Regions from separate parts of the Homo sapiens genome. Here region 1 is linked to region 2. A link means that fine-mapping ties the variant in region 2 to the plasma level of a protein whose gene starts in the linked region. Region 2 holds a variant in brackets. A gene starts in the other region. All regions are shown on their forward strands.

Region 1 (14,559 bases), not on the chromosome of region 2:
GTTGAAAATAGTTTACTAGTATTTTGTTGAGGATTTTTGCATCTTATTTCATCAAGGATATTTGTCTTTAGTTTTATTTTCTTGTAGTGTCTTTCTCTGGCTTTGGTGTCAGAGTAATACTGGTCTCATAAAATGAGTTTAGAAGTATTCCCTCCTAGTTAATTTTTTGGAAGAGTTTGAGAAAGATTGGTATTAATTCTTTAAATAGAATTCAGACTTGAAGCCGTCCCATTCTGGGCTTTCCTTTGATGGAAGACTTTTTATTACTAATTACATCTTATTACTTGCCATTGATCTATGTATATTTTAGATTTCTCCATGGTTCAATCTTGTTTGGTTCTGTGTCTAGAAATCTATCAATTTATTCTAGGTTTTCCAATATGTATCAATAAGATACTTAGTTGCTTATAATACTCTTTAATGATCCTTTGAATTTCTGTGGTTTAAGTTGTAATGTCTCCTTTCTCATCTTCATTTTATTTGGGTCTTCTATTTTCTTAGTCTGGCTAAAAGTTTGTTAATTTAATTCACCTTTTCAAAAAAAAACAACTCTCATTCTCGATCTTTTCTATTCTTTTTCTAGTCTTTATTTCATTTATTTCTGCTCTAATCTTTATTATTTCTTTACTTCTACAAAATATTGGCTTATTTTTTCTTCTAGTTTCTCAAGGTGTACAGTCAAGTTGTTTATTTGAGATCTTTATTTTTAATGTAAGCATTTATTGCTATAAAATTCCCTTTTAGGACTGCTTTTGCTACATACCATAAGTTTAGTATGTTGTATATTCGTTTTCATTTGTCTCAAAATATTTTTCTAATACTAATTTAATTTTTTATTTCAGTAGCTTTAGTGGTACAATTGGCTTTCGCTTACATGGATGAATTATATAGTGGTGAAGTCTAAGATTTTAGTGCACGCATCACTCCAGTACTCTACCTCGAGTAGTGTACTCAATGGGTAGTTTTTCATCACTCATTCCCCTCCCCACCCTGAGTCTCCAATGTTTATTTTATCACTCTGTGTGCCTTTGGGTTCCCACAGCTTGGCTCCCAATTTTAAGTGAGAACATGCAATATTTGGTTTTTCATTCCTGAGTTACTTCACCTAGAGTGACAGCCTCCAGTTCCAACCAAGTTTCTGCAAAATACATTATTTTGTTCTTTTTTATGGCTAGTCAATTACCATTATTCCATGGTATATATGTGTGTGTGTGTATATATATATGGTATATGTCTGTGTGTGTCTGTATATGTATATGTATATATATGTATGCTACATTTTCTTTATCCATCTTTGGTTGATGGGCACATATCTTTGCAATTGTGAATTATGCTACAATAAACACATGCATGCTGGTGTTTTTTTGATATATAATCATTTTTGTATGTGGCTGGATACCCAGTAGTGGGACTGCTGGATCCCACCACTAATCTCACTTTTAATTTCTTCTCTGGTCCACTGGTTGCTTAGGATAATGTCATTTAATTTCTACATATTTGAATATTTTCCAATCTTTCTCTTTTTATTGATTTCTAGTATTGTACTATTTTGGGTGAAAATTATACTTGATATGATTTCAGTCGTTTAAAATTTGTTGAGCCTATGTTTATGGCCAAATATATGATCTCTCCAGAAGCATGTCCCATGTGCACTTGAGAAGAATGTTTATTATGCTCTTGTTGGAAGAAATGTTCTGTATGTCTGTCAGGTCCATTTGTCTGAAGTGTAGTTCAAGTCCGCTGTTTATTGAATTTTTTTCTGTCTGAATGACCTGCCCATTGTTGAAAGTGGGTACTGAATTATCCAACAAATATTGTATTACAATTTTTCTCTCTCTTCAGATCTATTGATATTTGCTTTATATATTTATGGGCTCCAATGATGTGTACACACATATTTAAAATTATTATATCCTCTTGCTGAATTGACTTCTTTATTATTATATAATGACCTTTGCCTCTCTTTAAAGTTTTTAACTTAAAGTCTATTTTATGTAATATAACTATAGCTACCACTGTTTTATTTTGGTATCATTTGCATGAAATATCTTAATTCTTTCACATGCAGCCTATGTGTGTTCTTAAAGCTAAAGTAAGTTTCTTGTAGGAACATTAAGTTGTGTGTTGGTATTTTTTTAAATTCATTTGATCACTCTATACCATTTGACTGGAGAATTTTACTCATTTACTTTTTGAATAATCATTAATAAGTAATTACTTACTACTGCCATTTTGTTCATTGTTCCCTGGTTGTTTTGTAGGTCCTTTGTTTCTTTCTTCCTCTCTTTCTCTCTTCTTTTTGACTAGATAATTTTCTCTTGTGGTATACTTTGGTTGCTTGCTTCTTATTATTTATCTATTATAGGTCTTTGCTTTGTGGTTACCATAAAGCTTACAAAAATATATTTATAATAGACTATTTTAAAAAGATAACTTGATCACATAAAAATATTTTACACTTTTGCTGTTGTTTGCACATTCTTGTTATTGGTGTCACAATTTACATGTTTCTTTATTGCATATTCCTTAACAATTATTGTAGTTACTGTTGTTTTTAATAGTTTTGTCTTTTATGCTAAAGATTTAAGTGATTTACCAACCATCACTACAATGTTAGAGTATTTCAAATTTTACTATGTACTTAACATAGTCAATTTATACTTTATACTTTCCTGTGTTTTTATGGTATCAGCTAGCATTTTTATCTTCCATCTTGAAGAAATTCTTTTAGTCTTTTACATAAAGAAGGTCTAGTGTTAATGAACTCTCTCAGCTTTTGTTTTTCTGGTAAACTTCCTCTCTTTTCATCGTTTCTGAAGGATAGGATTGCCAGGTATAGTGTTCTTGGTTTGCAGGGTTTTGTTTTGTTTTGTTTTTTCATTGAGTATGTTGAATATATTATCCCACTCTCTCCTGCCCTGAAAGGTACCTTCTGAAAAATCAACTGATAATCTTATAGACATTCGCTTGCACATAATATGTTATTTTTCTTTCGCTGCATTGAAAATTTTCTTTTCATCCCTGACTTTTTGGAATTTGATTGTAATGTGTCTCAGTGAAGATGTCTTTATATTTAATGTATGTGGAGTTTTTTGTACTTCATGGATGTAGATGTTCCTTTTTCTCACCAGTTATGGGAAGTTTTTCACAACCATTTTTTTCTTTCTTTTTTTAAAATCTTTTATTTCAGGTTCAAGAGTACATGTGCCAGTCTGTTATATAGGTAAATTGTATGTCACAGTGGTTTGGTGTATAGATTATTTTTTCATCCAGGTAATAAGCTTAATATCCAATAGGTGCTTTTCCAGTCCTTGCTCTCATTTCACCCCTCATCCTCAAGTAGGTTCCAGTGTGTGTTTTCTTCTTCTTGGTGGCCATCTGTAGTCAAACTTTAGCTCTCACTTATAAGTGATAACATACAGTATTTGGTTTTCTGTTCCTGTGTTAGTTGGTGGAGGATCATGGCCTCCAGCTCCATCCATGTTGCTGCAAACATGATTTTATTGTTTTTTATGGCTATGTAGTATTCCACTGTGTATATGTACCACATTCGCTTTATTTAGCCTACTGTTGATGGGCATTTAGGTTGATTCCATGTCTTTGCTATGTGAATAACAGTGTAATGAACATATATATGCATATATCTTTATGTTAGAATGATTTATATTCCTTTTGGTATATGCCCCATAATAGCATTGCTGGGTCAAATAGTAGTTCTGTTTTAACTTATCTGATAAATTTCCAAACTGCTTTCCACAGTGGCTGAACTAATTTACATTCCTACCAGAAGTGTATAAACATAGCCTATTCTCTGCAACCTTGCTAGCATCTGTTATTTTTTGACTTTTTAAAAACAGCCATGCTGACTGGTGTGAGATGGCATCTCACTGTGGTATTAATTTTCATTTATCTGATGATTAGTGATTTTGAGCATATTTATATGCTTCTTGGCTGTGTGTATATCTTCTTTCGAAAAGTGTCTGTTCATGTCCTTTGCACACGTTTTAATGCAGTTGTTCAGTTTTTGCTTGCTAATTTAAGATTTTTGTAGATTCTGGATATTAGACCAAACTATGTCAGATGCATAGTTTGCAAATGTTTTCTCCCATTCTGTAGGTTGTCTGTTTACTCTTTTGATAATTTCTTTTGTTGTTTAGAAGCTCTTTTCTTTAATTAGATCCCATTTGTCAATTTTTGTTTTTGTTGCAATTGCTTTTGGCATCTTCATCATGAAATCTTTGCAAGATCCTATGTCCAGAAGGGCATTTCCTAGGTTATCTTCCAGGATTTTATAGTTTTACATTTGACTCTTTAATCCATCTTGAGTTTACCTTTTAAAATAGTATAAAGAAGGGGTCCAGTTTCAATCATCTACATATGACTATCCAGTTATCCCAGCACCATTTATTGAATAGGAAGTCCTTTTCCCACTGCTTATTTTTGTCAACTTTGTTGAAGATCAGATGTTTGTAGGTATGTAGCATTATTTCTGGGATTTCTATTCTGTTCCTTTGGTCTATCTGTCTCTTTTTGTACTAGTACCATGCAGTTTGGGTTACTGTAGCCTTCTAGTATAATTTGAAGTTGGGCAATGTGATGCCTTCAGCTTTGTCCTTTTTGCTTAGGAATGCCTTGACTATTCGGGCTTTTTTGTTCCATATAAAGTTTAAAATAGTTTTTCTAATTCTGTGAAGAAAGTTTCCGGTAGTTTCTTATGAATAACATTAAATCTATAAATTGCCTTGGGCAGTATGGCCATTTTAACAATATTGATTTTTCCTATCAATGAGCCTGGAATGTTTTTTCATTTGTTTGTGTCATCTCTGATTTTTTTGAGCAGTGTTTGATAATTCTCCTTGTAGAGTTCTTTTGTCGCCCTGCTTATCTGTATTCTTAGGCATTTTATTCTTCTTATAACTATTGTGAATGGGATTGTGTTCTTGATTTGTCTCTCTGCTGGGATATTGTTGTTATATAGGAATCCTAGTGATTTTCTTTCATTGATTTTGTATCCTGAAACTTTGCTGAAGTTGTTCATCAGCTGAAGGAGCTTTTGGGCTGAGATAATGGGGTTTTCTAGATATAGAATAGTATCATATGCAAACAGGGATAGTTTGACTTTCTCTCACCCTATCTGGATGCCATTTATTTCCTTCTATTGCCTGATTGTTTTGGCCAGGACTTTCAGTAATATGTAGAATAGAAATGGGGAGAGAGGACTTTCTTGTCTTATTTCAGTTTTCAAGGGGAATGCATCCAGTTTTTGTCCATTCAGTACGATGTTTTCTATGGGTTTGTCATAGATGGCGCTTAAGGTTCTAAAGGATATTCCTTCAATGCCTACTTTGTTTAGGGTTTAAACACAAAGAGATGTTTAATTTTGTCTAAAGCCTTTCCTGCATATATAGATATGATGATGTGTTTTTTGTTTTTGGTTCTGTTTATGTGATAAATCAATTTATTGATTTAGATATGTTGAACCAACCTCACATTCTAAAGCCTAGTTGATTGTGGCTTTTTGGTGTGTTGCTGGATTTAGTTGGCTAGTATTTTGTTAAGGATTTTTGCATCAATGTTCATCAAGGATATTGGCCTGAAGTTGGATTTTTTGTTGTTGTTGTGTCTTTGTCAGATTTTCATATCAGGACAATGTTGGCCTCATAGAATGAGTTAGGAAGGAGTCTCCCCTCCTCAATTTTTTGGAATAGTTTTAGTAAGAATGGTGTCTTCTGCTCTTCTTTATACATCTCACAGAATTTGGCAGAAAATCTATCCTGCCCTGGGCTTTCTCTGGTTGGTAGGTATTTTATTAATGATTTAATTTCAGAACTCATTATTGGTCTGTTCAGGGATTCAATTTCTTCCTGGTTCAATCTTGGGAGGTTATATGCTTCCAAGAATTAAACCGTTTCTTCTAGGTCTTTCAACTTGTATGCACAGTGGTGTTCAAAGTAGTCGTCGAGGGTTTTTGTTTGTTTGTTTGCTTGTTTGCTTGTTTTTCCTGTGGTGTCAGTGGTAATGTCCCCTTTGTCATTTCTGATTGTGTTTATTTGGATCTTATCTTTTTTCTGTGTCAGTCTAGCCAGTGTTGTATCAGTCATATTTATTCTTTTAAATGACATATTCATGGATTTGTTGATCTTCTGTATGATTTTCACATCTCAGTTTCCTTCAGCTCAGGTCGGATTTTGGTTATTTCTTGTATCTGCTAGCTTTGGAGTTGGTTTGTTCTCACTTGTCTAATTCCTCTAAGTGTGATGTTAGATTGTTAACTTGAGATCTGTCTAACTTCTTGATGTGGGTGTTTAGTGCTATAAACTTCCCTCTTAACACTGCTTTAGCTGTGTGTGGGAGGTTCTGATATGTTGCATCTTTGTTCTCATTCATTTCAAAGAATTTCTTTATGCCTACCTTAATTTCATTATTTACCTCAAAGTCATTCAGGAGCAGGCTGTTTAATTTCCATGTAATTGTATGGTTTCAGGTGATTTTTTAGTAGGGATTTCTATTGTTATTGCACTGTGGTCGATCAAAGAGTGTGGTTGGTATGATTTCTGTTTTTGTTTTTATGTTGTTGTTTTTTTGAGCTTGCTGAGGATTGTTTTATGCTCAATTGTGTGGTCAATTTTAGAGAATGTGCTATGTGCCAATGAGAAAAATGTGTATTCTATTGTTTGAGAGTGAGGAGTTCTGTAGATGTCTACTAGATATGGTCAAGTGTTGAGTTCAGGTCCTGAATATCATCGTTAGTTTTCTGCTTCGATGATCTGTCTAATACTGCCAGTGGAGTATTGAAGTCTCTACTCTGATTGTGTGGTTATCTAATTCTCTTTGTAGGTCTCTAAGAACTTGCTTTATAAATCTGGGTGCTCCTGTATTGGGTATGTATATATTTAGGATAGTTAGGTCTTCATTTGAATGGAGCCCTTTACCACTGCATAATGCCCTTGTCTTTCAAAAATCTCTTGGTTTACAGTCTGTTTTGTCTGAAATTGGTATAGCAAACCTGGCTTTTTTTTTCTGTTTTTTGTTTGCATGGTAGATTTTTCTCCATCCCTTTACTTTGAGTCTAGTAGTGTCATTGCATGTGAGATGGGTCATTGCATATGAGAGGGGCATACCATTATGTCATGCTTGTTTTCCAACTTGCCACTCTGTACCTTTTAATTGGGGCATTTAGCCCATTTACATTCAAGGTTAGTATTGATGTATGCAGATTTGATCCTGTCATCATGTTGTTAGCTAGTTATTATGAAGACTTGTTTGTGTGGTTGCTTTATAGTGTCACTGGTCTATGTACTTAAGTATGTTTTTGTAGTAGCCAGTAATGGTCACTCCTTTCTGTATTTAGCACTCTTTTTAGGTTATTTTGTAAGGCAGGTCTGGAGGTAATAAATTCCTTTAGCATTTGATTATCTGAAAAGGATCTTATTTCTCCTTAGCTTATGAAGCTTAGTTTTCCTGGATATGAAATTCTTGTTTAGGATTTCTTTGCCTTAAGAATGCTGAATATAGGGCCCCAATCTCTTCTGGCTTGTAGGATTTCTGCTGACAACACTGCTGTTAGCCTGATGAGGTTCCCTTTGTAAGTGATCTACCCCTTCTCTCTAGCTACCTTTAACATTTTTTTCTTTCATTTCAGCCTTGGAGAGTCTGATGACTGTGTGGCTTGGGGATGGTTATCTTGTGTAGTCTCACAGGGGTTCTCTGCATTTCCTGAATTTAAAGTTTGCCCTCTCCAAGGAGGTTGGGGAAGTTTTCATGGATGATATTTTGAAATATGTTTTCCAAATTGCTTGCTTTCAATGAGTCATAAATTTGGTCTCTTTACATAATACCATAATTTTCAGAGGTTTTGTTTAATTTTCTTCAATCTTTTTTTAATTTCTAATATGTGTCTAAGTTATTTCAGAGAACTGTCTTTGAGATCTGAGATTCTTTCCTCAGCTTGATCAATTCTGCTGTTAATACTTGTGATTGTATTCTGAAATTTTTGAAATGAGTTTTTCACCTCTATCAGATCAGTTTGGTTCTTTCTTAAAATGACCATTTCATCTTTCATTTTCTGTATCGTTTTATTGTATAGAATCCTGGAAATGGATTTTCACTTTTGCCTGAAGCTCAATAATCTTGGTTCCTATCCATATTCCAAGATCTATTTCTGTCATTTCAGATATTTCAGACTGGTTAGGAACCATTGCTGGATAACTAGTGTAATTGTTTGGAGGTAAAAATAGACGCTGGCTTTTGGAGTTGCCAGAGTTCTTGCACTGGTTCTTTCTCATCTGTGTGGGCTGGCGTTCCTTTAATCTTTGAAGTTGCTGTTTTTTGGATGGATTGTGTGTGTGTGTGTGTGTGTGTGTGTGTGTGTGTGTTTATCCTTTTTGATGCCCTTGGGGGTTTGATTGTGGTATAAGGTGGGCTCAGTTGACTCACTTCATTTCTGGAAGATGTCAGTGGGCCAAGGTTCAGCTCAGCATTCCCCAATTCTGGAATGCTATTATCAGGCCCCTAGCTTTGTTCTCTCACCCCTCGAAGTTAGGAACCTGCTGTGCTGGGGGTCCAAAGGTGTTCCTGGATTGCTGGCCACAACACTCCAGTAAGTGGCAGTGACCACAGTACTCTGTCAGGGTGATAGCAGTGGGATCTGTGCTCATGCCACGGCAGTGGCAGCATGGCTGGGTGCATGCTCGTTGGCTGGGGTGAGGCACTGACAGGCATGGGGATGCCAAACCCCATGACCCATTATTTTTTATATATGTTTTCTGCCCATTTTCTGCCTCTGCTCCTTCTAGAAAACCCATAATATATATATTGGCTCAGTTGATCATGTACCATAGTTTCCTTAAGCTTTATTTTCTCTTTTTGTTTCTTTTTTCTTTTTGTTTCTCTGACTGGATAATTTCAAATGACTTGTCTCAAACTCACTGACTTTTTCTGCTGCTTGATCAAGTCTGCTGTTGAAATTCTCCATGCATTTCTTCAGTTCAGCCACTATGTGTTTTTTTTTAACTTTAAAACAAATCTCTTTCTTGACCTTCTGATTTTGTTCACATATTGTTTTTCTGATTTCATTTAGTTGTCTATCTGTATTCTCTTGTAGCTCACTGAGTTTCTTTTAGACAATTGCTTTAAATTATTTGTTGAGCAGTTTGTAAAATTCTTTCCCCTTAAGGTCAGTTACTAGTCCTTTATTTTGTTCTGTTGGTAATATCATATTTCCTTGATTGTTTATGATACTTGTGGTCATGTGTCTTTGGTGTTTGACTTTTTGAACAAGTAGTCACTTATTCCAGTTTTTACAGACTGGCTTTAGCAGACAAAGCCCTTCACCAGTCAGTCATCCAGAGATTCTGGGCAGGCCATCTGGCTTGGTCTTTGGGCAGGCTTGCTGCTGGCATCCTCAAGTGGACCTATTGACTTGGTATACCAGGGTAGGCAGTCACTTCATGAGGGCAGGCCCGAAGCCTCTAATCACAGGAGCCAGACTAAATCCTACTTCCTGGAGACCAATCTGGCTCTAAAGCAGGCCTTGAACCCATGTCTTCAGGGGTTAGCCAGGCACTAGGACAGATGTAGTATCTGAGTCTCTAGGACAGGTCTGGAGTTTGAGTCTGTGCATACTGGGCTGGTACCTGAAACTACAGGGGCTGGTATGGAGCCAGGGTTAGTGGGGGTGGCCTGTAGCCTGGGACCATGAATGTCAACTTGCCTCTGGGGTAAGTCTGGAGACTGGATTCATGGGGCTAAGGCTGGAGCCTGAGTCGGGGGGGCTGGCCTGGTGCTAAGGTCTACTGTAATGAAGCTTGATCCTGGGTCTGCTGGAGTATGAGGCCAGACTAGTACCGAGTCCACAGAGCCTCGCCTGGAACTGGGAAAATCCAGAACTTGTGTCTGTGGGGGCTGGCCTAGTGACAGAGGCCACAGAGGCTGGCCTAGCATCAGGGCTTTGTGCTCAGATGGACCTAAAGGCTTGGGGAGGGTTTGGGATTTGACAGGACCGTATCCTGCGACTGTGAGTGTCAGTCTGGAGCTGGGGTCTGCAAGTGCTGGCCTGAAGTTGTAGCTGTGGGAGCTATCCTGGAGCTGTGGTGGGTCTGAAGGGCAGGTCCACATGGGCAGGCCTGATGTCTAGGATTTCAGGGGTCACCCTGGAGTCTGTGGCTGCAAGTGCTAGCTTGTCCTTGAGGTGGGCTTAGAGTCTTTGTCAGTGGGTGCTGGCCTGTGGTCTGGAGCTATGGGGAAAAGCATGATGCTGTGTGTGTCTAGAGCCTGCATCTTCTGGGGCAAGACTGGAGGCTGCAGTCATGGGGGCTGACCTGGAGCCTGGGGTCACAGAGCCTGGGGCCACAGAGCCTGGCCTGGCATCAAGGCAGCCTGGAGTCTAAGTCCAAGGGTGTCTGCCTGGAGTCAGAGGCCACTGGGTCTTACTGAGGCAAACCTAGTGTTAGGGTCCATGGAAAACTCAAGTGCTTATTTCACTCTCTTTCCCCAAGTTTAGGGAATGTCTCTCCATGCTGTGCTTACTGAGATTGATGGAGGGGTGATATAAATAATGTAAAAGTCTTCTTTCTACCCTCTTCGATGCATCCTTTCTTATTTTTTGCAACATTCAGATGCTTTAATCACTCACTTGGGATTGTTAGCTCTTGTGAAGGTATTTCCATTTTAATGGGTAGTAGTTCAAATGAATGTTTCTGTGAAGGTTCAAGAGCTGGAAAGTCCTATCTACCATCCTGCTGATGCCATTCTCTGAGAAGTACTATTCTAAGCACCATCAGAGCCTCCTAAATCTGTTCATGTCACACTGTCAGGTTTGGGCTACGGGAATGGGAGGGCAGTAAGTACGCGGGAGAGAAATGTCCTCATCTCTCCACAACACAAATCCTACATGAGCAGGACCCACACCCTCATCATAACACACTGGTAGGGATGCACACTTCATCATTTTCCCTAGAGGCCTGGGTGAATAGGGAAGAAGCAAGACCCATAAAGTTTCCTCCACTCAAACACTTTGTCCTTCTCAGAGTATGGCTATGACACTGGCATATACAAGACAAACAAGTGCAGACTAAAAATTTTATTGCTCTTTAAAGCCTTAGGCCGTATGACAAAATGAAGAGACTGAAATGACAGCGGGGAGGAAGAAACAGAAGAAAGATAAGAATGAGGTGGTCAGGTTGGGGGAATTAAGCGAATATTCTCTTCCAGGGTGAGTCCTCACACTGGTCTCATGCCCATGATGAGTTGCACACCAAACACAGGCTGCTGACTTCCCTCCTGCACTAGTCAGTGAACTTGCAGACATAGGGTAACCTCACATTACAGTTATAATCTTTCCACCTCAGAAATGCTGGAGAGACAGAAGACATAAATGGAATGGGGCTGAGGAAGCTTGTGAATCCAATGAAGGGGCATCCCAGGTTTTAGCCTAGAAGTTAAAGCCTCTCCCTCACCTTCACCAGTGTCCCAATCCAGGAGAGAGATTCAAAGAAAGTGGAGAAGAGAGGAGATAAGAGAAGACACACTAACATTGTATTTTCTAGCTCAGGAAGATTTCCTGAAGGTCAGACCCAGGAATGGGGGATGAGATGGAAAACACTGGGAAGAGGCAGCTCCTCTGTTTCTTACCTGTGCTTCTCGACAGGCTCGCACAGTGGCCGGGGCTTGAGATGGTGGAGGGATTTCTCTCCCATGCAAAGTAATTCATCACATCACTGCTACTCCACTCCCAACCTTCTCCATTGGGCTCGGTGCCCTGTAGAGTAGAGGAGGTAGCCAGGTGAAGGGAATGGCCATTGCAGCTCTTCTTGCATGGCCCCTTAGCTGCAACACCTGATTTGCTCCCCAGCATGAGGAAAGTTGGTCTGCTATTCCAGATGCTGCCGGTGAGTAGGAAACTCTTCCTTGACTCCTCATTGCTATTGGAAAATTCCAGCCAATAAACATAAGACCTTTGGAACAACTCAAGGTAATATATTATTTGCAGAACAATAATTGATGTAGCATTTGTGATTAGCTTGTGAACCTCAAAAGTAATGTCAGTTCTGTATGGGGACAAAAATTGATCCTATCTTCATTAAGAGTTCCTTCAGAATAGTAGGCAAAGACTCCATGAAGCTCAGAGAATTGTTAACCCAGCCTCATATGAGAATTATGTAATACGCCTGAGGAAGGCAGATTGATTTTATCTGAAAGATAGAGACCTCCACAGAACTCAGATCTTCAGATGCTTCATGGCCTTCCCTTTCCCCCCAAATATTCCCCAGAATCTGAGCTCCAGTGCTCCCTGAAGTACTTCCTGGGCAGGCACAGGGGACAGGGAGTGGGCCTGGGCAACAATAGCACCTTGAGAGGTAACAGAGAGGGGAGGATATACTGGCACCTGTGTGGGGTCATGGAGCCCAATCCAGACGTATGAGTAGCTGTTACCAATGCTCTTCACCAGGGAGGACACGAAGGATCCCTCAGCCCCACTGAGCACAGACACCAGGTTTCCAGAGGGCCGCTTCTGGCAGGCCAGCTTTGAGGGCAACAAAGAGAATGAGAGGGAGCCTGAGACCTGCTGAGGGAGGGCAGGGCAAAGGTAGGTGGGAGGAGGACTGTGTGAAAGATAAACGTGTTCATCCTCATTCCCAAGGAACTCTCCTGAATGGAGACCCTCCTCCCCCTGAGACCGGTCACCTCCAACACCACATCTAACCACTCACATCTGCATCTGTCCAGGATTTTGGTGACAAAAACAAGGCATAGCAGTGGGAGCCATAGGCCTTGGAGCCTTTGGGACAGCGGATCCGTGCAGAGGGCAGTTCCCTCTGGGGTTCTTCACCTGAGGTGGAAGAAGAGGGGGGAGGGTAAAATGAAGAGTGGGGCTTGGGGTGGGAGATGACCTTGGGGAATACCTAGGAATGTCCTTGGGGAGGAAGACCACATTCCTGACACCCCTTCATCTTCCCTTATGTTTTCAGAAATTCTTTATCTCAAAATAGCCGTAGTAAATGGAGCACCATCCAGTCTCTTATTACCCTTTCCCCTTATTCAACCATTCAATACTCTCCTCACTCTGGGCTGTCTCTACATTGGGTCCTCCAATCATTGTCCCTCCCCACATCTCATTACTGACCCTCCAGTGTATATTAGAGTCCACTTTCCCACCAGTGTATATTAGAGTCCACTGACTAAATGGAAGCCATCTCATTCCACTGTTAGTGGACCACCATGGAGCCTCCCACTGCAAGTTAACCTGAAGGAAGGAGAGATGATGCAAGAACTGCAGGCAGGTTCATTAGACACCACGTCATTACCTCACATGACACACAGGAGCCTTCCTCCTCTTGTTAGCTCTGAGGATTCATAGGGAACCCAGTGCTAGAGGCAAAGCAATCTCACCTTGAACCTGAGACAGCAGCATGAGGCAGGAAAGCAGCATCCAAGATACACTGGGCAGGGCCATGGGAGGCAGCATAGTGTCTGCGACTTGAGGAGGCAATCAGGAGTCACTAAAGAAAGCGTGGTCAGTGGGAGAACACACAGATACCCCACTGCCTCATGTCATTTTCCTTCTCTAGTCCCCTAGGACTAAAGTGATCTTGGTCACATCCATCATCTTCTACAGTTCTGAATGAGTTGTGAATCTGTGTACTCTCCCATCCCCGAGCCCTCCCAGGACACCCTTGCTGAGTCTCAGAGTTCCTGTGCTCCCTGAGGAAGGGACCCTCCCATGTATTCTCCTGTGTCATGTGCAGTAGCTCCTCCCTGGGTCTCATCTTCTCTCAGCTCCCACTTACCTCTCTGGTGGGATATGGTATGGTTTGTCTGGTCAGGAAAGAGTGGGATTTTATAAGAGGATCTGGGGGAGGGACATTGGAGTGAAGAGTGACAATGAGTAGGCAGGACAGGGGTCATGGGGTGGGGTTGGCATGGACTCTTCCTGGCAAAGACTGGGGATTTTCCCAGATGTTGCCTCTTTCCTGTTGGCAGGCCAACACTTTCCCTAGGAAGAGGTGAAGTTTGCTTTTTCCTCTGCATCCTCCTTGTCAAAGGCCTGTGGCACCAAATGTGATATGAAATCTTCTAATGTGGACATCTGAAAGAGGAGTTCCTCTGGTGGGTTTCTTAAGAACCCACTTCTGGAGGCAAACCTATGTATTTCTTATTACCTTGCCTAGTAAGATTAAATAAATGTTAGGTGTTAAGTGAAGATTTACGGGAATTATAAGTATCATGGACAGTTGAGGACATAGATGGTACTGAAGCTAAGAGTAGGAGTGAGGGTTCAGGGCCATTATGCAAGCATGATAGCTAATTTTGATGAAACTTCAGAATTGTCTGACAAGTCAATACATGAGCCACAATCTTACAGAAAATCAGGTGAATGGACTTGTCTTTCCAGTCTTCAGCAAGAAAGAGCTTCCCCAGTGGAGAATGACAATGGCAATGTGATAGAATAAGAGGTAATGAAGGAAAACAAGACATAAGAAGGACTACAGTCAAATAATGAGGATCAAAGAAGAATGAATAATAGTTAAAGAAGGGAAGAGCAGCCATTGTGTAAAATCA
Region 2 (16,145 bases):
AAGATTTCCAGGTGCCAGCACCTGAATTGGTGCCTGAACCAATGAAGTTAGCTCCCTCCCTTCCCCACCACCTCTTAGCCAAAGACACCTATCACTTGACTGGGGAACTCTAAAGCATATTCTGCAGAGGCCTCCAATGGCAGTGAGCCTCAGATGCCCACAGTCACCTTGCTCCTTCACACACATTTTATCAGCTTCCTTGCCTTCCTGTCTCATGAATCCTACTCTACCACTGGTGCTCCCTGGGGGAGCCTCCCAAATAAACTGTTTGCACTCATATCCTTGCCTCACCCAATGGGCCCTGAGGAGGCAGTTATGACCTGATACTGAATAGCTAACTCTAAAGCTTAGAAATAGGGGCCAATAAAAGGGTCAGAGTAATGCAAGCTAGCCCACCCTACAGGGAAGGAGAGAGGCAGGTGTGAGCTAGGGGAAGACCAGTCACTGGGGAGACTGGTCAAGCTGGATGCAATGGCCAAATGTGTACTTGGAACTTCCCCACTTGGCGGAAGGTTAAGACTGCCCTCAGAAGGAGAGCTGGGATGGTAGAGAGAAGAAAACAGGACTTGCCAGAGTTGCAAGTTGCATGGAGAAGAAACCTCCATACCGGGGGTAGTGATGGCAACATTAGGTTGCTGGTAGCAAATGCCAGTAGGACTAGAAGCCCAGCATTGCCTTCTGCCCCCAGGCTGCTCCTAGGATAGAGCTATAGAGCTCCAGCATTCCAGAACCTTGGCATGCCTGTTCATTCAATAACACAGCTATTATGTTCCGCACTTAGAACTAGGCACTGGTGACACCAACAGAGGCCATTTGATTAAACACTAAGAGTGTGTGTTTTGAACCTAGTCAAGCTGAATCCCAGATCTGTCACTTTCTAGCTGTGTGACCTTCATCAACTTACTTAAATTCCCAGGGTCGCAGTATCCTCATGTGTAAAATTAGGACAATATCCACCCTGGAGAATTTCTGTAAGGATTAAACATAAAGTATCTAATGCAGTACCTGGCACAGGATAGGTGCTCAATAAATATTAGATGGATGCATGTATATAATGGATGGATGGACATAATGGATGCATGCATAAATGGATGGGTGGATGCATGAAAAAGTAGATATAATGGTTGGTGGATGGATGGATGGATGGATGGATGGATGGATGGATGGATATAATGGATGCATGCCTAAATGGACGGGTGGACAGATGAAAAGGTGGATATAATGGTGGGTGGATGGATGGATGGATGGATATAATGGATGAAAAGGTGGATATAATGGATAGATGTATGCATGGATAGATGGATGGATGTTTAAAAGGAGATGAAAAAGGCACTAGTTGTCTGCATCGTTCCCATCTGGTTCAATATCCCTTTCCATTAAATTTATTTTTTATTTTTATTTTTGAGACAGGGTCTCACTCTGTCATCCAGGCTGGAGTGCAGTGGCGCAACCACATCTCACTGCAGCTTCACCCTTCCAGGCTCAAACGATCCTCCCACCTCAGCCTCCCAAGTAGTTGAGACCACAAGTGTGTGCCACTATGCCCCCACTAATTTGTTTATTTTTTGTAGAGATGGGGGTCTCATTATGTTGCCCAGGCTAGTCTTGAACTCCTGGCCTCAAGCGATTCTCCTGCCTCAGCCTCCCAAAGTGCTGATCTTTCCACTAAATTTATAAACGAGAAAATAAGATTCCATCACTCCCTAATTTATCTATTTTGGAAATCTACATTTTCATTAAACAGGTTGACAAATATAAAGTAAGATCCTTCTAATGGGCCTTAGCCACATAACTGGGGCAGAGTCATTCCCTGAAGGATGTATAGAGTTACATCAGAATAGAGGATATCCTCCTGGCTCAGTTGCCTTCATACCAGCTCCCACCATGTGGTCATGCCATGCCAGTACCCATCTCTCAGCAAGTCCAACTCCACCCAACTCCTATTCCAGAGAAGGTGGGTCAGGGACCAGATAAAGGAAGGGGAAGCCAGGTAAAAGCACAGCAGGGACAACAGGCCAGGATGGCCAAGGAGAAGAAGCCAAGAACAGAATGCAGGGATTTGGGACAGGGGTAACTACGGATCAGAAAGAAGAGGCTGAAGAGCAGAGAGGATTTATTGTCTTTGGAGAAATGAAGAAAGAAAATATTCCTCAGAGAACAAGGGAGCAAAAACAAAATGAAACAGATGGAGCAACATAGAAAGACCATTTTTTTCCTGCTCCATCACCCCCAATTGCTCTCCACTACCTACCAGATAAAGTCCAAGCGCTCTAGTTGGGCCTCCAAAGCATGCAGGATCCCTCTCCCTAAACAAACACTGGGTGCAGCCAAGGGGACCTCCTTGCTCTCTCACGCCAACCCAATCTGGGCCCCCAGACCCTCCCCCAGTTCCTCTCCCACAGATTATCCAACTTCTCCTCCTCTCTGGAAGCCCTGCTCCAGGGTCTCCTCCTCCTCCCGACAGCACACCCTGACTTCACCCACCTCTAATCACCATTTGGGCACAATTACTTACTCTGTTCCAAGCCTGGTTCTGTGTCTGAAACAGGAATACAAGGATGAATAAGACAGCCCTTGCCCTATGGTTTTTACAATCCAGCTTGGAAAAAACATCATCACCTGATAGCATATATTGTATTTCTTCTACCACTATGGATAATACTAAAACTTGTATTGAGTTGTAAAACCATCTATCAAGGATGGCTTCTAAAGCCGTGATAGAGCCAGTGCCAGGCCCTTGGCTTTATCATGTATTAATTCATTTGGCCTTCCCAATAACACTAGGAAGTAGGAAATACTACTGTACTCATTTTACAAATGAGAAACAGGTACAAAGAAGTCACCTCTCTGGTTTTCTCAGCTGCAGTGTGAACTCCTTGAGGGCTGTCCCTTGGTTTCCTCCTCTCCCACACAGGCTCCAGGTAGAGGACACTCGGACATGGCCCTCTGGGCTCAACGTCCCCACCGCTGTGGCCTTAGGTGAAGGTGTGCTGACTGGTGGGTGGGAATGGTATACATGCAGGAAAATGAGCGCCAGCAGAATGGAGGAGACTGGCCTCCCAGGTGGGGTATGAAAGGACACAGTCTCGGTGTCCCCTTCCAGCATCTCTCTTCCCTGCCTGTCCCCAAGGTCCAGCCCTGGCATTTCACAATCCTGCAGTCACTGCAGAATTCCCTGTCCCTTTGCTAAGAGCGCTGAGGTGGTGTAGAAGGAGGGAGCCAGGCTTCATGCCCAAGACAGACAGGGGAACAAAAGGGTGGGCTGTTGGAGAAGGGAGGAGCCCTTCAGCTCCCCCAAGCCCCAGGGGGTCAAGCCTCTCTGAGTGAATAAGCCTAGCCTGGAAAGTAAAACACAGGGCAGGCCCCAAAAGGGTCATGTCTGGGCACCCTCACCTTGGCAGGGGGGTGGGGGAACATGGGCCTGCGGCAGAGGCAGGGCCCTCATGGCACCGAGCTGGGCTGCCCCCTTGGCAGGCTCACCCAGCTCAGAGGCCTCTTCAGGCTGGGAAAGCTGAGGAGGTGGATGGCTCAGACCCAACTTAGAATAGAACCATCATGAGGCATTGAGTGGGGTTCTGGGTTGGTGAAGGGGGCTTCGCACAGCCTATAGAGCTCAGCAGTGGGGGTCCAGTCCCCAGCCCCGGCCATACCTCACCTCAATATTTCTATCCCCTCCTAGAAGGCACAGTGGATGTACAGTGCAGGTAGAGCAGGGAAACTGAGGCACAGAGCCTGTCCTCCAGCTCTGGAAACCTGCTCTGCCTGTCTGGCCACCAGCACCATCCTTGAAAATGAACCCCCATGTTTCTCACAAGCACACAGGACTCCAAATCCTACCATTCCAGGGTCCTACAGGACTCCAGATCCTACCGTCTCAGGGTCCTCTTCTACCCTGGGGACATATATTTTCGAGAAAGAGGCTCCCCAAAGTGGGGCTGTGGAAAGAGGGCACCGTGCCTTTTCCTGAGTCCTGGTCTGGGATTGGGTGACGAGACCAGTAAGGGGCTCAGCCACAGCTCTGGGCTCCAACCCCGGCTCTGCTTCTCACTAGCCATGAGGCCTTGGGCAAGTTACTGAAGCCTCTCAGGGCCTCAGTTTCCTCCTCGGAGAACAGGACTAAGTCTCCCTGCTCTTGTCTCTCATAGTTGATAGTATCCAAAAGGTCCTGGTACCCCACCCAGGACTCATACCCTTAATCACTAGTCCTCCCTCTTCCTCCTCACCAGGGGCCCAAGGGCTCAAGCACTGGCAGGGGCTGCTGAGGAGCTGACGGAGCCACTGCTGTTGATAGAGCCGGTGCCAGGCCCTGGGCAGGCACGGGGCCCAGGCACACAATGGGGCTGTGTGTGCACCCAGCGTTACTCTGGAGTGGAGCTGGGCAGGCAGGCTGGCATCTGGGGTCAGGCCAAGAATTCATGTCTCTGGAGAAAGCCTCCCCACCCCCTCCCAGGCAGCACAGCTCTTTCCAGGGGTGAGCAAGCACCACCCACTCCCCCACCCGGCCTAGGAAGGGAATGGGAACTTGCTCTGGTGGCAGGTACTGGGAAATGGGGACTCCTGAGTCTAGCCACTGGCTGGGCTGCTCGCTTGCGAGGCATTTTGGACCTATTACGTAATCTGGGGTTGCAGCCTCCTCTTTGGCCAGAGGGAGGGTGAAGTCTGCGGGGGCCAGGAGAAGGAGCAAGAGAAGTCTGGCTGCGACCCCCACCCCATACAGAGGGCCTCAGTCCTCCCTCCCCAGCTTACCAGGGCCCTGGGCTCAGCACAGGTTTTCTGAGGCACCCAGGACTCCTGGCCACCCAGCCTGCACCAGGGTGCTGGGGTACCCCAGGAGAGGAGCTGGCTCACTCCCCAGGAGAATGAGTCACCAGCTGGCTGCAGCCAGGATGGCGAGGCGGGTGGTGGGCAGGTGGAGCTTGTCCTCTCCTGTCCCTGGCAGGTCTTCTCAAGCTGGAAAGCCACTCAGCTGGTATCAGTGCTGACCACAGCATCCCAGCCCAGGCCTCACTGGGCCACTTCTTCTGGTGCAGGGACCGTCTGGCCGCAGGATTCAGAGAGACTTGATCCCCTCCGGTCCCTACGCTGACTCACTCTTATAGCTGTAGGCATGGGCAGCCTACTCCTCTAATTGTCTCTGAGAGGGTGTCAGGCTGCAGGGAAGGGCAGCCACCTACCCCCAGGGAGAAACGCGGTCTGAGGCGAGGAAGGAGGGGAGAACTCAGGCACCTGGTGGGCAGCAGGGAAAGGCAGACAGCCAGGCCACCTTACTCCTCAGGCTGTGGCCAAAACAGGGAGGGCCCCTTTGCATGAATCATTTTCTATTCTCCCCAGAGCCAGGAGGCACCCAGGAACAGGAGCTAACTGGCCCTGCTCCCTGGCTGGCTAGACATGTGGCACCCTCCCTCACGCCCAGTCATAACGACACAGATAGGCGTCCTGATGCATGCCACCCACACTCCCTGAAGGTCATACACAAAGTCACTGTGGCAGCCCAGCCCAGTGGACACAGTTGGATGGCCACCCATCCCCTGACACCCACAGGAACCCCCCAGCCTGAGCTAGAGTGGGCCACACCACATCCTGTAGGCCCCAAACAGTGCTGAGTCTGGGAGCACCTCAGCTCCGAGGGCTCCTTCCTGGTCAGAGGGCAAGGACCTTTCCCAGCCAAGACCACTGCACTGAGTCCTGTGTGTGCGTGTGTGTGTGCACGTGTGTGTGTGTGTGCGTGTGCATGTGTGCGTGTGTGTGCATGTGCATGCGTGTGCATGTGTGCGTGTGTGTGCATGTGCATGCATGTGCGTGCATGTGCGTGCGTGTCTGTGTGTGTGCGTGTGTGTATGCATGTGCTTCTACCACCCCTACTCTGAGAAATCACTCCCATGCCCTGAGAAAAGAGACGGTGAGAACCAAAGGGCCTTCGGAACCTGAGCCCATCGTGTTTGTTTTCCAGATGAACAAACTGTAACTCACATTGGGGAAGTGTCTTTGTTCTAGATTATGAATAAGGCTGAATCTGGAACCCAGGCTGGGGTAGCTTATGGCTAGTCAGACAAAGCAGAGGATGGGGAAGAGGGAGCAGGGGCGAGAAGGAAGAAAAGGGAGGCGAGGGAAAATTCATCACCAGATCAGAGGTGCGGCCTTGATGGTATCATTCCATTCATTCATTTCAAATATTTCTTGAGCACTTACTACATGCCAGCACTCTGGCAGGGCCTTTCTGCCCATATCACCCCTCCCTCCTGTGAGACACTGCTTCTGAGACGGACTATTGTCTTCAGGGGACCCCCATCCCGAGGGTGCGGGGAGACTGGGGCAGCGCTGGAAGCTCTACCCTTGAGTGGCGGCC[C/T]GGCCCCAGAGAGGCCCTGGAGGCAGCCTCCTCTGCCCTCCACACCCCAAGGGACTCCAGCCCTCAGGGAATCCAGTGACCACAGCACTCCAGACCCTGATATACAGGTTGGCACTCCTCCGGGAGTCCATGCCAAGTCAGAGGGCACAAAATGTCAGACGACAAGGAGCCTGGGAGTCACCTACCAGAAAGTCCCAGGTTGATGTTAGCAGCAGCACTCCCATTTTCAGACAAAGTCGGCCTGGACCCTTGATATGTAAAACATGAGGATGAAGCCGCTCCATGGAGCACCAGGAGTCAGTGTGAGGAGCAGGAGAGCAGCATGGGGAGTGGGAGGACCACCCCACCTGGCCTCCAACCAGGGCCTCCCCCACGCTCCCAGATAGTACCCAAGGCACCTTCTGGGACTGTGACGAAGAATCTGAAAACCACAGTTTTCTCTGGCCTCTCCATGTTGCGGAAGTCTGGAGGAAGCAGGGAGTATGTGCGGACCACACAGCTTAGGGAGAGCTAGGACCACAGCCCTGGCCCTCCCAACTTCCAGGCCAAGCTGTTTCCCAAGACTCTCAAGACAACAGGACCCCATCCTCCACATGGGAAAGGGACACAGCAACACCCCCACTCCCAAAAAAGTCTCATGAGCCGGGCGCAGTGGCTGACACCTGTCATCCTAGCACTTTGGGAGGCTGAGGCGGGTGGATCACCTGAGGTCGGGAGTTCGAGACCAGCTTGACCAACATGGTGAAACCCCATCTCTACTAAAATTACAAAAATTAGCCGGGTGTGGTGGCGGATGCCTGTAATCCCAGCTACTCGGGAGACTGAGGCAGGAGAATCGCTTGAACCCAGGAGGCGGAGCTTGCAGTGAGCCGAGATCACGCTACTGCACTCCAGCCTGGGCGACAGAGCGAGAATCTGTCTCAATTAAGAAAAAAAAAAAAAAAGTCTCACGGATTCAGGTCCTCCCATGCTCCCAGTACAGGGCAAAAAGCTCCACGTACATCACGCCTATGACCCAGGTATTATCATTTCTTTCTTGTATATAAAGAAGTGGGCGTTCAGGAAGATTAAGTGACTCATCCAAGGTCACCCAACCTGTGAGTGGCAAAGCCCAGATTCCAACCCAGCACATAGCTCTTGACCCCCACTGCAGCCTTGCAGACATCACCACTGTCGTGGTGCCTGGCTATAACAACTTCCTCTGAGCCCCACTGCAAGCCTCATCTCACTCAAAGAAAAGCTGAGAGGTCTCCTACCCAACTCACCCCAACAGGATGTCACATACGGAGCTTCTCAGTAATATAGCACTACCACTGCTACTAATACCACCACCTCTCTATTATACAGCACTTTCTATTTAGGCAGTTCATACAGTATTATCTTACTTAATCCTCACAACACTACACTCCCATCTCCATCTCACAGAGGAGGAAACTGAGGCATACAGAGGTTGATGAGTTGCCCAAGTTTACACAGCTAGGAAAGAGCCGAGCTAGGATTCAACCCCAGGCAGTCTCACCCCAGTGGTACACCCCCTCCCTATAATGTCTGCTGGCTCCTCCTTCAGCGGTAGCTGTCACAAGCACCATAGTTTGGGGCTTGCCTCCCTCCTCTGAGGCCTCTCTGCAGGGGTCTGAGGCCAACTGGACCCCTGAGGGGTGGATGTGGGAAACCTATCTGATGAGCACCTTCAGCTCATCCTCTCCAGCTGTGGTAACACCATCCCCACCACCCACCCACTCACAGGAGCTAGAGCTGGAAGGATGAGATCCTGGGAGAGCAATCAACGCACAAGCATGAATAGGACACCTACTGCATGCCAAGCTTCAAGCTGTGGCAGGTGCAGGAAGTAGAAGATTCTGTCCTTGCTCTCCTGCCAGAGGCTCCAGTCCCCAGAAATGTCCAAAGGAGTAGCCCCTGCCACCCCCACCCCCTTTAGTGCTGGCTGCACCAGATGTTGGCAACACTTAGAAACAGGGCTAAAAATAGACTCTATAATGAGTCTGTGCTAAGAATAACTTGGGCAAACAGCCCTCCAGGAGAGGACACTCTCTGACAGGGAGCCACCACCTCCTCCCACCTCACAACCCAGCCTGGCCTACCCCCTGGCCCATCACTCAGAGTCCCCCACAGCTAGCAGAGGACCTGGAGCATTTCGAACCTAACTGCTGTGTTGATGGAGGCATCGGCATGCCCGCGTGCACCCTACATCACAAGCCAGGTGACCGGCCACCCTCCATGAAGGGTGGGGGCATCAAAGGACTGGGCAGAAGCTGGTGGGAACTCCCTGCTCCAGGCAGAGCTGTACTGAGGCACCAAGTCACTTGAGTTGTTTCCCCACTCTAACACCAACTCCCAGCAGGAAACTAGGAAAATAGGGCCCCCCAGCTCGAAAATCGTGCTTCATTTCATGTCTCACCTGTGACATGGGTCCCTCGAGTCAGCTAGACCGGCCCACTTCAGACATGTTCAGGGGAACTGAGAGCAGAGAGAGGCAGCAGTACACTGAAAAGCAGACATCAACTGTGGCCGGGGGAGGGGATCAGAACTTTAGGGCCCCAACCATGCTAGCTCCCACAGCCAGGGCCTCCTTTTCCCATGTCCTCACTGCCCCCAGAAATTATAAGAACTGTCAGACTCATGGATATCTGCATATGGATTGAAAATTAGTAGAGCACGTTCATGTATGATATCAGAGCTGAACTTCTCAAAAACTCCAGAAGACAGACAAGATGATGAGTTTCATTACACAACTGAGGAGAATGAGGCTCAGGAAATGGAATTAACTTGCTAGGGGCCCTGCAGCTGGGATGAAGCCTTATTGCCATCTATTAGTCTGAGAAGGATCTCCCAGCAGCCATAAACTAGGCATAGCTCCATCTCATAGCAATGCCCAGAAGGAAACAGACACCCTCTAATGCTGGGAGCAAGCAGGAGGGGGCCAGAAAAAGGTAAGGAGCTCTCAGGAGGAAACAGCAGCACACACAACACTTCTCTGAGGACAAAGGAAGAAGGAAGAGGAAGAGGTATCCTGGGCAGAGCACTGGCCATGGAGTCAGGAGCAAGGAGTCTGGCCCTAGCTCTGTAACAGGTAACTGCATAACCTGGGAAAATCCCTTCCTAAGTTTCATTCCAGGTCTTAGTTTCTCTATCTGGAAAATGGGGCTTTAAACACCAGGCCTTTGAGATACCCTAGAGTATATATCATGACCACATATTGGAGATGTACAACAAAAATTAGCATATCACAGGCTCTGACAAGCCCTACAGCAAAGAAAACCATTTGGGGTTTTGTGTAGTTGTATATATTTATGGAGTACAAGGTGATGCTATGATTTATGAGCACCATGTGGAATAATTAAATCAAGTTAATTAACATATACATCACCTCAAATACTTGTCATTTTGGGTGGTAAGAACATTTGAATTTTGGGGGTGTTTTTTTTTGTTGTTTTATTTTGTTTGTTTGTTTGTTTTTGGAGACAGGGTCTCGCTCTGTCACCCAGGCTAGAGTGCAGTGGAATGATCACAGCGCACTGCAGCCTCAACCTCCCAGGCTCAATTGATCGTCCCACCTCAGCCTCTCCCATAGCTGGGACTACAGGCATGCATCATCACACCCGGATAATTTTTGTATTTTTTTGTTTGTAGTAACAGGTTTCACCATGTTGCCCAGGCTGGTCTTGAACTCCTAGGCTGAAGTCTCCCGCCTCAGTCTCCCAAAGTGTTGGTATTACAAGCATGAGCCACCACACCCAGCCTAGAACATTTAAAATTAACTCTTAAATGATTTTGAAATATACAATAATTACTATTTACTATATTCACCATGCCGTACAATACATCTCAAGGAAAAAACTTATGCCCCCTGTTTGAGGTTTTGTACCCTTTGACTATCATCTCCCCATTCCCCCAACCCCTATTTTTCTTTTTTTTTTTTTCTTTGACTTACAGTCTCCTGTGCCTGCTTGACCTCTAAACCTTTCCACAGAAAACATCTTGGGAAACCCTGGAATAGATTTGGAGCCACCAACTCAAATGCCTGCAGGGGCCAACAGGAAACATGAAAGCCTGAAGCAGGCCCAAACACAATCCGTTGGGACCTGCGGTTGGCTGCAAACCCTAAAGAATTCCTGACAGCTCTGGAGATTCAAGTAGTCTAGCACAGGGGTCCCCAGTCCCCAGGCCACAGACCCATACTAATCCATGGCCGGTTAGGAACCAGACCACACAGCAGGAGGTGAGTGGTGGGCAGGCAGGCAGGTGAGCGAAGCTTCATCTATATTTGCAGCCACTCCCCATTGCTCACATTACCACCTGAGCTCCACCTCCTGTCAGATCAGCAGTGGCACTGGATTCTTATAGGAGTGCAAACCCTATTGTGCATTGTGCATGTGAGGGATCTAGGTTGCATGCTCCTTAGGAGAATCTAATGCCTGATGACCTGTCACTGTCTCCCATCACCCCCAGATGGGACCGTCTAGTGGCAGGAAAACAAGCTCAGGGCTCCCACCAATTGTACATTATGGTGAGTTGTATAATTATTTCATCATATATTACAATGTAATAATAATAGAAATAAAGTGCACAATAAATGTAATGCTCTTGAATGATCCTGAAACCCTCCCCTGCCATCCATCCATGGAAAAACTGTCTTCCACGAAACCAGTCCCTGGTGCCAAAAAGGTTGGGGACCGCTGGTCTACCACTTCTATTTCACTGAAGGTCTCCTTCAGGACCCATCCAACATCTTCAACAACCCTATTGAGAGGAGCAAGGAAGGGGTCAGTGCCCTGTGTCACACAACTGAGGAGACTGAGACCTAGGAGGCCAGACACCCGGCCCAGGGTCACACGGCAGTTACTGGCATGCAGGTCATGTGGCAGGTCCCATTTATTCGGCCCTTATTGTGTACTATGTACTTCTCAGTCTTTATCTCACATAGCTCTCACAACAACCCTTTGAGGAAGGCACAGAGGAAGAAACCAATGGTCAGAGAGATTCAGTCACTGTTTGAGGACCCACAGCTAGAAAGTGGCACTACCCAGATTTGAACTCTAGTATCCCGAATCCAGAACTCAGGCCCTCAGGCCAGCTCTCCCATTTACTAGCTAGGTAACCTTGGGTGAGAGATTTAACCTCTCTGGGCCTCAGCTTCCTGAGGCCCATTTTATTATCCCTGTAAAATGGGATAATAAAAAGACCTGCATTCGGTTGTTGTATAAAGTTTGCAAATATATAAAAGTGCTTAGCACAGCGCTGGCACACAGGAGTGCCAATATATGTGACCTGTCATTAAACACCACATTCTACTGTGGGAGCTCATGCCTGAGCCTCTGGGCTCTGTGCTCAGTGGGTTGGAAGCCACCCACAGCCTCCTGAAAACTGGCCCCTGCCAATCAGTCCTAGGTTACTGCCTCTCCACCTGCCACCACAGCCCCTTAAGCTGGGACTCCTGGGGTACTCAATGAAGAGTGGAGCTTTAGAGGTTGGGGGTTCCCAGATTTAGGCCAGATCTGGGTCTCATCATCTGAGGCCCCTACTGGGCTGCCTGCACTCAAAGCTGGGGATATCCCCAGCCTGCCATGGGTCACAGGCTTCTCCTCCCACTGCCCTAGGTCACAGGGTAGGGAGGCCAGGGGCTCTCCAGACAGGCAGCTGATGTCCTCATGACCTTCCCCAGTCCTCCCAGCCTTAAAGACGACAATCATAACCCACCCAGAGCTCTTCATACTTCCTGCAGCCGGTTCATCCACAATAGGTCACAAGATGGGCATCACCACCCAGGAGGCTGGCCGCTCAGGAGACAGTGTGCCTCCTTTACAGATGGAGAAACTGAGGTCCTGACTAGGCCAAGCACTTCCCAGGGCAGGGATCTAAATAGTGGGAAGTCTTCTGGCTTCTGGATAGGGCTCAAGCTGAGAGCCAGGTTGCAGGCCAGGCCCACGTGGGTCTCACCCATAGTGACTACAGATCCTGCAAGCTGGGGGAGGGGGCATCAGTAAGGCCGAGTCCTTCTCTACCCCACCCCACCCCAGCCAGGGAGACTGGCACAGCCCTCACCCATATATAATTATTCCATCATATATTACAATGTAATAATCATAGAAATAAAGTACACAATAAATGTAATGTTCTTGAATAATCCTGAGACCCCAACCTCCACCCAACCCCCTGCTCCAGCAAGCATGGGCAGCTCCTGCCAGGCCTGACCCTGCAGCCTTCCACTGACGGCAGCCTCCCACCTTTCCAGGTAGCTCTCCAGCCCCCAGCCCCAGCCCCCAGGACCCAGGCCAACCATTCACCCCAGGCATCACCCCCTCTCATCGTCCCCACCTGACACAGGGTCATCACCCAGGAATCCCTCTCTGACCACTCTGCTCCCTCCTCTGCTGACCCACAGTCTTGGTAACCACCTTGCTAAGAACTGGGCCCTGATTCTCCAGTCAGACCATGAGGTTTGCTGAGGACAGGCACCCTGGCCATAGCACTGCTGCTGCGCCTTATATTCAGTAGGTGCTCTATAAACATGGCACAGGAGGGACAGAATCTCTAATGCAGTGGCACCAAAGTTTTGGACCATGGCTCACAGAAAAATATACTTTATTTGACACTAGGCACACATACACACACACACACACACACACACACACACACGAAACATGTTCTACACAACAATGCTTACTGATACTGAGCAATACACTTGAATATTTTCTAGTCTCTTCTTTTTCATTAAAAAAAAATTCATGGAGACCCACCAAACTGATTTCATGGCTGAATTAGGGTCCAATTAGTGGCCCTGATCCACAATTTGAAAAACCTCCCTCCAAAAGTATCTGTGCAGCCCAACTATCTGCCTGGCGCGTGGCCCTCTCTACAACAGGCGCCTAATAATGGCATCCATCTGTCAGACACTTACTCCAGGCCAGACCTGTGCTAAGCATTTTACTATGGTGTCTTATTTCATCCTCACCATCACCCTAGGAGATAGGAACTGCTATCACCCCCATTTTAAATGTGGTGAAACTGAGGCCTGAGGCCAAACAGTAACTGGCTCAGACAGAGCTGAAAACCAGGCCTGTGTGAATCTGAAGCCAGATTCAGAACCACTGCACCCTCATGCCCACAGATGAGTGGCCTTCAACTGCTCTCTCAAGACTACACCCTGGCAGGGAGCTCACTCTCCTAGGAAGTCTCTTCCAACTCCAACTACTAATAAACCATTCCTTATATTATTATTATTATTATTAAGGCAGAGTCTCCCTCCGTCGTTCAGGCTGGAGTGCAGTGGTGCAATGTAGGCTCATTGAACCCCTTCGCCTCCTGGGTTCAAGCGATTCTCCTGCTTCAGCCACCCAAGTAGCTGGGATTACAGGCACATGCCACCATGCCCAGCTAATTTTTTGTATTTTAGTAGGGACGGGGTTTCACCATGTTGGCCAGGCTGGTCTCAAACTCCTGACCTCAGGGGACCCGCCCACCTCGGCCTCCCAAAGTGCTGGGATTACAGGCGTGAGCCACCGCACCTGGCTCCATTCGCTATATTAATTTAACTCTTTATAGCTGTGGGTTACTTTGATTACTTAATTGGGGATGGCACAGAGAAAAGAAAGGGCTCCCTGGCCAGAGCCCACAGGCTGCAAGGCCAGCCCTCACACCCCTCCCAGCAGACCCTCCATCCTCCTCCTCTCCCATACTTCTATTGGAACCCAGAAAAGGGGCAGGGGTGTGGGTGAGGGGCCCACCTGTGGGCTGAGTGGACCATTCTGCCATTCTCCCTCACTGATATAGCTGCCCTGGAGCAAGTCACTCTAGCCCCTGGGCCTACATGTCCCCATCTGCAAAATGGGAATGATAGCAGCATCCCCCTCATGGGGTGACTGAGGGTGAAGGGGCTGGTACAGATGAATCACTGGGCACAGTACCTGACATGGAATAAGGCCAGGTAAACATGAGCTCTTACTATCAATCTCAGTTCCAGCTCAAACTTCCACCATCAAAAATGATCGTCAGGAGCCCTGGGCAGTTTTTTGCCATCTGCACACAAACATGCTATGTCCTGGTGAAGTGTTAACCTGTGCAGGCACTTAGTGGGAGGCTGGCTCTATTCTGAGCACTTTATGTGAGTAAAGTCTTTTACTCTTCAGAACTCACAAGGTGGGCACTATAACTGTCATCTCCATGTTACAGATGAGGAAGCAGAGGAGGATAACTTGCCAGCATCATGAAACTGCAAAACGACAGGGCCAGGATTCAAGCAGGTGGATGTAGAGCATATGCTCCCAGCCCCTAATGTAAATGGGTATTCACTGTGGCCTGGCCAGTGACATGCTAAGCCCATCCTGCCCATGACCTTCTCACTCGACCCTTGAAATAAGCCTGGAGAGATGAGGAAACTGAAGCACAACTCTGGCTGACTCCTGATTTCCCACGCTGTCCAACCTGCACTCCAGAGCTTGGCCACCTTCTTCCCCATTCTTTCCCTCACCCCAGCCTTGGCCATGCTCAGAGACCCCCACCCCTCCCCAAAGACATCCCAATGCCAGTGCAGCCTGAGGGGCCTCATCCCTACCCACCCACCTCCCCAAAGACACCACACGCATGCACATACACTCACACAGATGCACACAGGCTAACACACATGGACACACATTCACACACATGCTCACACACATGCACACACTCACACACATGCACGCGTGTGCTCTCATACCTTCGAGAGGGCAGCCCCCTGGAAGGAGGCCCCTGGAATGCTCAGCTCCTCCAGGGGCCGGAGCCCAGGGCCGCACCCCAGCCCCAGGGCCGGGCTCAGTTTCCTCATTTCCCCGGCGGCTGCTGTTTCTCACCCAGCCCCCTGCACCTCAGCTGGAGAGGAAGTTGCACAATCCCCTGGGAGCTGCAAATGCGGCCGAGGATTACTCACAGCACAGAGGGAACTGCGCCCCGACGGCACAGTCCCACACCGCAGCCTACCCAACACAGACTGCTTCAATCTCACCCGCCCGGCTCCAGGCGCCCACAGCGCTCCTTGGTCCTCCCACAGGAGGCCTCTCATGGCCGCCCTGACCCCAGCCTGACCTCAGAGGGCCCTAGGCAGATGGAGAGACACAGAGCAGCAAGAATTTCGCCAGAGTCCCAATCCCACCAGGTCCAGGGTGGGCCTAACCCTAACCCCAGCCCCGCTTCCTAGAGACATGTGTCCTTCTAGCCAGAAGCCCCACAGCTCACCATCTTCCTGACTGGCCATACACCTGCAGTCTTGGCCTTGGGCCTTCCCAGGGCCTCCAGACACCCAGGTCGAGGCCGTACTACAGCCCACCTTGAAATGGAGCCTGAGATCAAGCAGAGCCCTGGGCAGCTCCGGGAAGATCCACACCACCGCACACTTTTCACTTGTGCAGAAACTGTTCTTGATACACATGCAAGTTCAGTGGTTCCTCAGCCCCCCAGCACTTTTTTAGCAGCCTGCCAAAGAGACTGGGCAGAGATTTCACTTAGTGCTTCTTTCTGGTGGCCAAGGGATTCCCATCGTTGATAAGCAAATACCCTGTATTAAGAAAGGTTAAGCTATTATCGGTCGTCTGCGTCTCAGGGTGGATGAGTTTACTGGGCCCTTTCGTGAGTGCAGGTTTCAGGAAGGAAGCGGGCAGCAGAGAGGAGATGAGGCAGGCCGTGGCTCCTGGAGAAGGCAGGAGATGCCAGCAATGTGAGGGAAGCCCAGAACAGTGAGGCCAGAGAGGCCCAGGGAGGATGGACCCAGACTCTGGTCCAACCCTGGGCCTCCCTGGGCTGGCAAATT

Which allele goes with the higher level. Positions count from the first base shown, and alleles are read on the strand shown. Strength reflects both the effect of a copy and how common the allele is.
For the plasma level of the protein whose gene starts at base 13,813 in region 1, T is the high allele of the variant in region 2 and C is the other (weak association).

The links. A credible set is the group of variants that fine-mapping cannot tell apart. PIP is the chance, under the fine-mapping model, that this variant and not a neighbour inherited with it causes the effect. The UK Biobank Pharma Proteomics Project read protein levels with antibody pairs (Olink). The fine-mapping took linkage between variants from a reference panel, not from the people measured, so its PIPs are less certain.
Region 1: it holds the start of REG3A, and the variant in region 2 is the best candidate, but not a certain one, in a credible set for the plasma level of the REG3A protein (UK Biobank, PIP 0.73).

What each region holds. Positions count from the first base shown.
Region 1 is chr2:79,145,941-79,160,499 of GRCh38, forward strand. It overlaps REG3A (regenerating family member 3 alpha), which reads right to left and starts at 13,813. Exons shown (of 6, transcript NM_002580.3): 1 at 13,788-13,813; 2 at 13,390-13,499; 3 at 12,711-12,829; 4 at 12,386-12,523; 5 at 11,632-11,758; 6 at 11,066-11,353. The coding sequence starts at 13,465. The coding sequence ends at 11,286.
Region 2 is chr6:41,708,402-41,724,546 of GRCh38, forward strand. The region is part of intron 1 of TFEB (transcription factor EB); the gene reads right to left. Among named protein-coding and RNA genes, the nearest start is that of MIR10398, 17 kb to the right of the region's middle. RefSeq lists enhancers at 4,402-5,127, 5,128-5,851, 7,932-7,981, 8,092-8,191, 8,432-8,491 and 3 more. The variant C/T (reference allele first, on the strand shown) is at 6,347.